Linked DNA regions of Homo sapiens. The protein of the gene in region 2 purifies or fractionates together with the protein of the main gene of each other region. This does not show direct contact. Each region holds a gene or a part of one and is shown on either strand. Other genes may lie near its edges.

The links. The genes of interacting proteins can lie anywhere in the genome.
Region 1: the proteins of ABHD17A (region 2) and DYNLT2B purify together in Homo sapiens (affinity purification with mass spectrometry; 3 studies listed by BioGRID and IntAct, with this or other methods). This does not show direct contact.

Annotation. Positions count from the first base shown.
Region 1 is NC_000003.12:196,297,541-196,301,286, forward strand, and holds part of DYNLT2B (dynein light chain Tctex-type protein 2B), read right to left. Parts: intron 1-3,746. UniProt on the Homo sapiens protein: Acts as one of several non-catalytic accessory components of the cytoplasmic dynein 2 complex (dynein-2 complex), a motor protein complex that drives the movement of cargos along microtubules within cilia and flagella in concert with the intraflagellar transport (IFT) system.
Region 2 is NC_000019.10:1,883,476-1,887,221, forward strand, and holds the start of ABHD17A (alpha/beta hydrolase domain-containing protein 17A), read right to left. Parts: upstream 2,022-3,746; 5' UTR 1,877-2,021; intron 1-1,876. UniProt on the Homo sapiens protein: Hydrolyzes fatty acids from S-acylated cysteine residues in proteins. Has depalmitoylating activity towards NRAS. Has depalmitoylating activity towards DLG4/PSD95. May have depalmitoylating activity towards MAP6.

The sequences.
Region 1 (3,746 bases), on a different chromosome or scaffold from region 2:
TAATAATAATAAGTGAAAAAAAAATTACAAATGTTTTACATTTCTATTAAACGTATGTGTATGATTTATCATGCAAACACTTATTGAGCACTTACTTTGTGCCATTCACTAGTCTAAGTGTTTTACGTGTATTAACTCACTGAATCCTATGAGGTACTATAATTTTACCCATTTAGTGAATGTGACAAATGAGGATTAGAGAAATTAAGTGTACAAGGTCATACAACTAGGTAACAAAGCTTGGCTTTGCACCCAGGCAGTTCACAACCCATACCCACAGAGAAACATACACATATACCTTATATTATATTGGTTCTTTTTTTTCCTGAAACAAAAGGTCTCACATATTTATTACTGAACCCAGCCTACTATCGCAGGGCATATAAGCAAAGAGAAAAAATATATTCCCAATAAAACACGTCCAACTGTTCAGACAGTGGTGACGTTTTCAGCTTGCTATAGTAAGATGGCCGTGACCTTGATACAGCGTGAATATGTGTGCCAGCTCACGTGCAGTTCCTTATAGACCCAGCTTGGCTGTTCTGCAATGTCTCCTTTCCAGTTGTGCCTGATTTTATTACCAGTTTTCAACCAGATCCACTGGAGAATGGGACGATTTGGCTTTTGTTTCTTGGCCAGGAATCGCTTACTCTTAAAAGACTTGTGAGAAGACATGACAAGAAGCAGAATCAAGCACACACCACAAGAGAGAGTTGTTTGTTTTTTGAGACAAAAATATAAAATAGTGAGACCCCAATTGTTTTATTTATTTATATTTTATTTTTATTTTTTGAGAGGGAGTCTCACTCTGTCAACCAGGCTAGAGTGCAGTGGCACAATCTCAGCTCACTACAACCTCCACCTCCCGGGTTCAATGATTCTCCTGCCTCAGCCTTCCGAGTAGCTGGGACTACACACGTGCATTACCACGCCTGGCTAATTTTTATATTTTTTGTAGAGACAGGGTTTCACCATGTGGGCCAGGCTGGTCTCAAACTCCTGAGCTCAAGCAATCGGCCCACCTCAGCCTCCCAAAGTGCTGGGATTACAGGTGTGACTTGGAAAAAGTGTAATGGTACAGTTTGTAGCAGGCTAATAATGCTCCCACCAAGAACAGTAAGAAAAGCTGGATAAAATGAATCAGGGAGCTGCCAAAGCAAACAGGCCTAGAGGAGCCAAAATTCCAGAAAGAGGTGAACTCTAGGAGGTAAGCTGATATTCCGCAGCAGATTTTTTTCCTGGAGGATTTGCCAATTCAGGGCACAGGGCTAGATGCTGAGAATCTGGGCCTTGCTCAGGTAAAGAACAAATTACTGAGGGAAAATTTAACTAGTAGGAGAGTTGGCAGTCTTTACTTTTTAAAATTTTTTTATTTATTAATTTTACTTTGAGACAGAGTCTTGCTCTGTCACCCAGGCTGGAGTGCAGTGGCACGATCTCAGCTCACTGCAACCTCTGCCTCCCCAGGCCAAGCACTTCTCATGTCTCAGCCTCCCGAGTAGCTGGGATAACAGGCATGCACCACCATGCCTGGCTAATTTTTTTTTTTCTTTTTTTTTTTTGAGATGGAGTTTCACTCTGTTGCCCAGGCTGGAGTGCAGTGGCACAATCTTGGCTCACTGCAACCACAACCTCCCGGGTTGAAGCAATTATCCTACCTCAGCCTCCCAAGTAGCTGGGACTACAGGCACCCACCACCACGCCCGGCTAATTTTTGTATTTTTAGTAGAGACGGGGTTTCACCATGTTGGGCAGGCTGGTCTCGAATTCTTGACCTCAAGTGATCCACCGGCCTCGGCCTCCCAAAGTGCTGGGATTACAGGCATGAGCCACTGTGCTTGGCCCTAATTTTTTGTATTTTTGGTAGAGACGGGGTTTCACCATATTGCCCAGGTTGGTCTCCAACTCCTGAGCTCAGGCAATCTGCCCGCCTTGGCCTTCGAAAGTGGTAGGATTACAGGAGTGAGCCACTGTGCCCAGCAGAGTCGGCAGTCTTAACAAAGCTAAGGAGGTAAAATCAGATTCTGGAGGGAAGATCCCATAAAAAAGGAGAAAGTAGAACTGAGCGTATCACATGGTAGGTTTTCTTTTCAAGACATGCTGAATTCAGGCCGGGCACAGTGGCTCGCGCCTGTAATCCCAGCACTTTGGGAGGCTGAGGCAGGCGGATCACGAGGTCAGGAGATCGAGACCATCCTGGCTAACGTGGTGAAACCCCGTCTCTACTAAAAATACAAAAAATTAGCCGGGTGTGGTGGCGGGCGCCTGTAGTCCCAGCTACTCGGGAGGCTGAGGCAGGAGAATGGCGTGAACCCAGGAGGCGGAGCTTGCAGTGAGCCGAGATGGCACCACTGCACTCCAGCCTGGGCAACAGAGTGAGACTCTTTCTCAAAAATAGAATAAAATAAAATAAAGTAACTAGTATGACTAAATCACAAGGGTCCTTACAAAAGAAAGAGGGAGTAGGTGGGTCAGAGTCAGAGAGTTGAAGATGCTGTGCTGCTGGCTTTGAAATTGGAGGAAACGGCTTATGGGCTAAGGAGTTCAGGGGCCTCTAACTGGAACAGACGAGGAAATGGATTCAGTCTTAGAGCCTCCAGAAGGAATGCAGCCCTGCTGACATCTTCATTTTAGTTCAATGAAACCCATTTTGGATTTCTGATCTCCAGAACTGTAAAGTAATATATTTGTGCCATTTTCAGCACTGAGTTTGTGATAATTTGTTACGGCAGCAACAGGAAACTAGTACACTAAGGAAAAAGCCTCTGACATGAAGAGCAAAGTTTTATGCTGAGGAGACAAGATCTGAAAGTCAGCACCTGTTGGAGGTAGAGGCCTGCAGAGGCCTAATGAACATTCGAGGTTCTTGGTTGAAAGACTTGGAGGGCTACAATTAAGAAACAAGGGGGCCAGGCACAGTGGCTCACGCCCATAATCCCAGCAGTTTGGGAGGCCAAAGTGGGTGGATCACCTGAGGTCAGGAGTTTGAGACCAGCCTGGCCAACATGGTGAAACCCCATCTCTACTGAAATACAGAAATTAGCCGGGCGTGGTGGCGTGCGTCTCTAATCCCGGTTACTCAGGAGGCTGAGGCAGGAGAATCACTTGAACCCGGGAGGCTGAGGTTGTGGTGAGCCAAGATCATGCCATTGCACTCCAGCCTGGGCAACAAGAATGAAACTCTGTCTCCAAAAAAAAAAAAAAAAAAAAAATAGAAACAAGGGTGAGGCTGGGTGTGGTGGCTCACACCTATAATCCTAGCACTTGGGCACTTGGGGAGGCCAAGGCAGGAGAATCACTTGAGCCAAGGACTTCAAGACCAGCCTGGGCAACATGGTGAAACCCCATCTCAACAAAAACATACAAAAATTAGTTGGGCGTGGTGGCTCATGCCTACGGTCCCAGCTACTTGGGAGGCTGAAGCAGGAGGATCACTTGAGCCCAGGAGCCAGAGGTTGCAGTGAGCTGAGATCGCACCACTGCACTCCAGCCTGGGCAACAGAGTTGAGACTCTGTCTCAAAAAAGAAAAAAAAAAGGGATGAATTTAAGATAGGGCCTTTTTAAAACCACAACTCTCAGATGAGTTGGCACAAGAAAAGAAAATTTTTTAAAAAGATAAAACTGTAACCCAACCTCAATTCAGCTCAGTACCTGAAGCTAAGCGGCCAATACTCTTCCTGCACAGCAGAAGAGAGAGTTAAGTCCTTTCTGGAAGAAAATAATATCATCTGGAGGTCTATAATTC
Region 2 (3,746 bases):
GTTTAGGTGGCATCATGCAGCTGGGTCCTGAGAGCCCAGTGGACAGCAGCAGGCCCCTGGAGACCCCGGAGACGAAGGGGCACACCGAGGTGGCCAGGGCCCCACTATCCAGGCCAGAAACAAAGATGTTATCCTTGACACCTCCTTCCACCCACTGGATCTGAGCCGGTCCATCACCAGCCCGGTGGCTCTGCCTGTCTCCCATCAGCCACCGCCCGGTCCCTGCCTCCATCACCTTTCACCAGAGCCACAGCAACAGCCTCCCTCCTTGCTGATCACCTGCTCCAGGACATTCTCCCCCAGCAGCCAAACAATCTTTCACGACACAAATGCAATGGAGCCGCTTCCCTCTTGGGGTGTCCTGGGGGCCTCCCATTATTCCCTGGATAGAGATCAAAGCCCTCCCCACAGCCTGCCAGGTCCGCATTCCGGCTCAGGCCGACCTCTCCAGACTCACTCATCTCACACCCTGCCACTCCTGGCTCCCTCAAGACAAGCCAAATTGCCCCTTCCTGCCTCTGCTCCTCTGCCAGGAACTCCCTTCCCCAACCTCACTAGACAGCCTTGCCCAACCCAACCACCCTTTGCACCTCACTGCCAACGCTCTCAGAGTCCTCAAAGCTGGGACAGGACCCCTTACACGCTCTTTCCACAGCTTGTATTTTTCACACGTTTGGCCAGATCTCCCCCCACCTCCAAACCAGAAACTCTATGAGAGCAGGACCATGACCTGCCACTCACTAAAGGAATGGGCAGGTGGTAGGCAGCACAGAATTAAGGAGGAAGCACAGGAGGAAAAGAATCCCCAAGGTCCGCCAGCTTTGACAGGGAAGGGAAAGTCTAGTCTCCTCTCCTCTCCAGCCACAGGTACCTGGAACCTCCCTAGTGTCACTAATGGGCGTGGACTGGGGAGTGCAAACCCAGACGCCTCACTCACTGGGCACACACCCTTGACACCCTGAATCCCACCAATTCCGTTCCCACGCACTTAACTGGGCAACCCTCTGCAAGCTAGAGGTGTTCTGAGGACCAGCAAGCAACCGAGCAGCCAAAATACTGGAAGATGACCTACATATGGGAGACGGTGACTGCACCTCACTCAACCAGTCAGGGTGGGAAACCCGCCTGGGGGGAGGCGCGGCCATATCAGAGGGCAGACAAACGGGCCAGGTGACAGGGGGATGGGACAGAGGGACAAGCAGGAGCAAAATCCGAGGTGACAGAGCAGGCTCCTGGCTAGAGCAGACCCTGGGAGGAAGAAGTGAGCAGAAGGGTCCTAAGAGAGAGCCTGGGACGGGTGAGGTCGCGCCCCCGAGAGTTTGCACTTCATCCTGGGAGAAATGGCGGGGCCGCGAAGAAGTCCCGAGCAAGCGATGGACAACATAGGAGAAGGGCTGCATCCCGGAGAACGGACGCGAGCGGAGGCCGGGAAGCCCGCCCAGGAGTCAGGGTGGCAGGAAGAAGCCTGACAAGGGAAACAGCGACTGGGAGCTGGTTGGGAAGCAGGGCTCGGGAGGGCCCCTGGGAGCTGCCTTGGGGGGCGAGAGGCCGAAGCGTTTGTCGGACTGGGGGCAGTTTCGGGGCAAAAGAGCGGAATCCGCGGCTCGGACGGGTGCTCCCCGAAGGCAAGGGCCGCGTCCGCAGGAGGGTGGGAGCGCAACCCACGCCGGAGGGCTGAATGGATGGGGACAGGGCTTTCCCAATCACAGACGCTCATCCGCGGTCCGCGCCCCTGCTCTGGGCTCCTCGGGCAGGACCCGCGGAAGCCCTGGGACTGCAGGGGTCTCGGGGACGTCCAACCGGGCTGTCAGGCCCTCGAGGCCCGGCCCGGGACCCCGCGCGGCCGCGCCCGCCCCCGCCCCTGCCCGGCACTCACCACCCCGGCCCGCGCCCCCGGGCCCCAGGGCCGCGCTCCATGGCTCCCGGCCGCCCGCCCGTGCGTCCGTCGGTCCCTCCGCACCCCTGCCCGGCCTCCTGCACCGCCACCGCCGCAGCTCCCCCCACGGACGGAAGTGAGCCTCGTTCTCACCACCGCCCCGGAAGTGACGCGAGGAGCGCGCGGGGCGGGGGTCTGCAGGCACAGAGCGACCGCGCGACTAGCGTCCTGGGGGCGGGGCTGATATGTCGAGGGGCGTGGCCTGCTGCTCTGTGGGCGGGGCCAAACTTAGGTTTCATTCACTTGGGGACCCGGAATAGGTTGAGGCCAGTAAAGTTCTCGCCTGGAAAACAAAATTTACAGGGACGCCAAAAAAAACTCAGACATCAACATTTAGAAATGTTTTAAAATATTTTTCTTTATGAGATGGAGTCGCGCTCTGTCGCCCAGGCTGGAGTACAATGGCGCGATCTCAGCTCACTGCAACTTCTGCCTCCTGGGATCAAGCGATTCTCCTGCCTCAGCCTCCTGAGTAGCTGGGATTACCGGCGCCCACCACCATGCCCAGCTAATTTTTGTGTTTTCAGTAGAGACGGGGTTTCCCCATGTTGGCCAGTGTGGCCTCGAACTCCTGACCCCAGAATCCTCCTGCCTCAGCCTCCCAAAGTGTTGGGATTACAGGCATCAGCCACCGCACCTGGCCTCTTTTTTTTAACATAGAGTCTACTCTGTCACCCAGGCTGGTGCCATCATAGCTCACTGCAGCCTCGACCTCCCAGGATCAAGTGAACCTCCTACTTCAGCCTCCTGAGTAGCTAGGACTATAGGCACAAGCCACCATGACCAGCTTATTTAAAGTCTTTATATATTGCTCATCAGAAATTCTTTTGCATTAGTTTTTAAAATATTACATTAGGCCGGGCACGGTGGCTCATGCCTGTAATCCCAGCACTTTGGGAGACTGAAACAGGTAGATCACCTGAAGTCAGGAGTTTGAGACCAAGCCTGACCAACGTGGTGAAACCCTGTCTCTACTAAAAATACAAATATTAGCCGGGCATGGTGGCACGCGCCTGTAGTCCCAGCTACTCCGGAGGCTGAGGCAGGAGAATCGCTTGAACCCGGGAGGCGAAGGTTGCAGTGAGCCAAGATCGGGCCACTGTGCTCCAGCCCAAGTGACAGAGCAAGAAGACTGTCTCAGATAAATAAATAAATAAATAAATAAATAAATAAATAAATAAATAAAACTATGATCACTCCACTGCATTCCAGCCTGGGCGAGAGAGCAAGATCCTGTCTCTTAAAAAAATTTCATTATGGGCTGGGCGCGGTGGCTCACGCCTATAATCCCAGCACTTTGGGAGGCCGAGTCGGGCAGATCATGAGGTTAGGAGATCAAGACCATCCTGGCTAACACGGTGAAACCTCATCTCTACTAAAAATACAAAAAGATAGCCGGGCGTGGTGGCGGGCGCCTGTAGTCCCAGCTACTCGGGAGGCTGAGGCAGGAGAACGGCGTGAACCCAGGAGGCAGAGCTTGCAGTGAGCTGAGACCGCGCCACTGCACTCCAGACTGGGCGACAGAGCGAGACTCCGTCTCAAAAAAAAAAAAAATTGCATTATGGCAGGGCCTAGTGGCTCACGCCTGTAATCTCAGCACTTTGGGAGAACGAGGCAGGCAGATCACCTGAAGTTAGGAGTTCAGCCTGGCCAACATGGTGAAATCCTGTCTCTACTAAAAATACAAAAATTAGGCCACCCTGGCCAACATGGTGAAACCCCATCTCTACTAAAAATACAAAAATTAGCCGGCTGTTGTGGCGCGCACCTGTAATCTCAGCTACTCCACGCCACTGCACTCCAGCCTGGG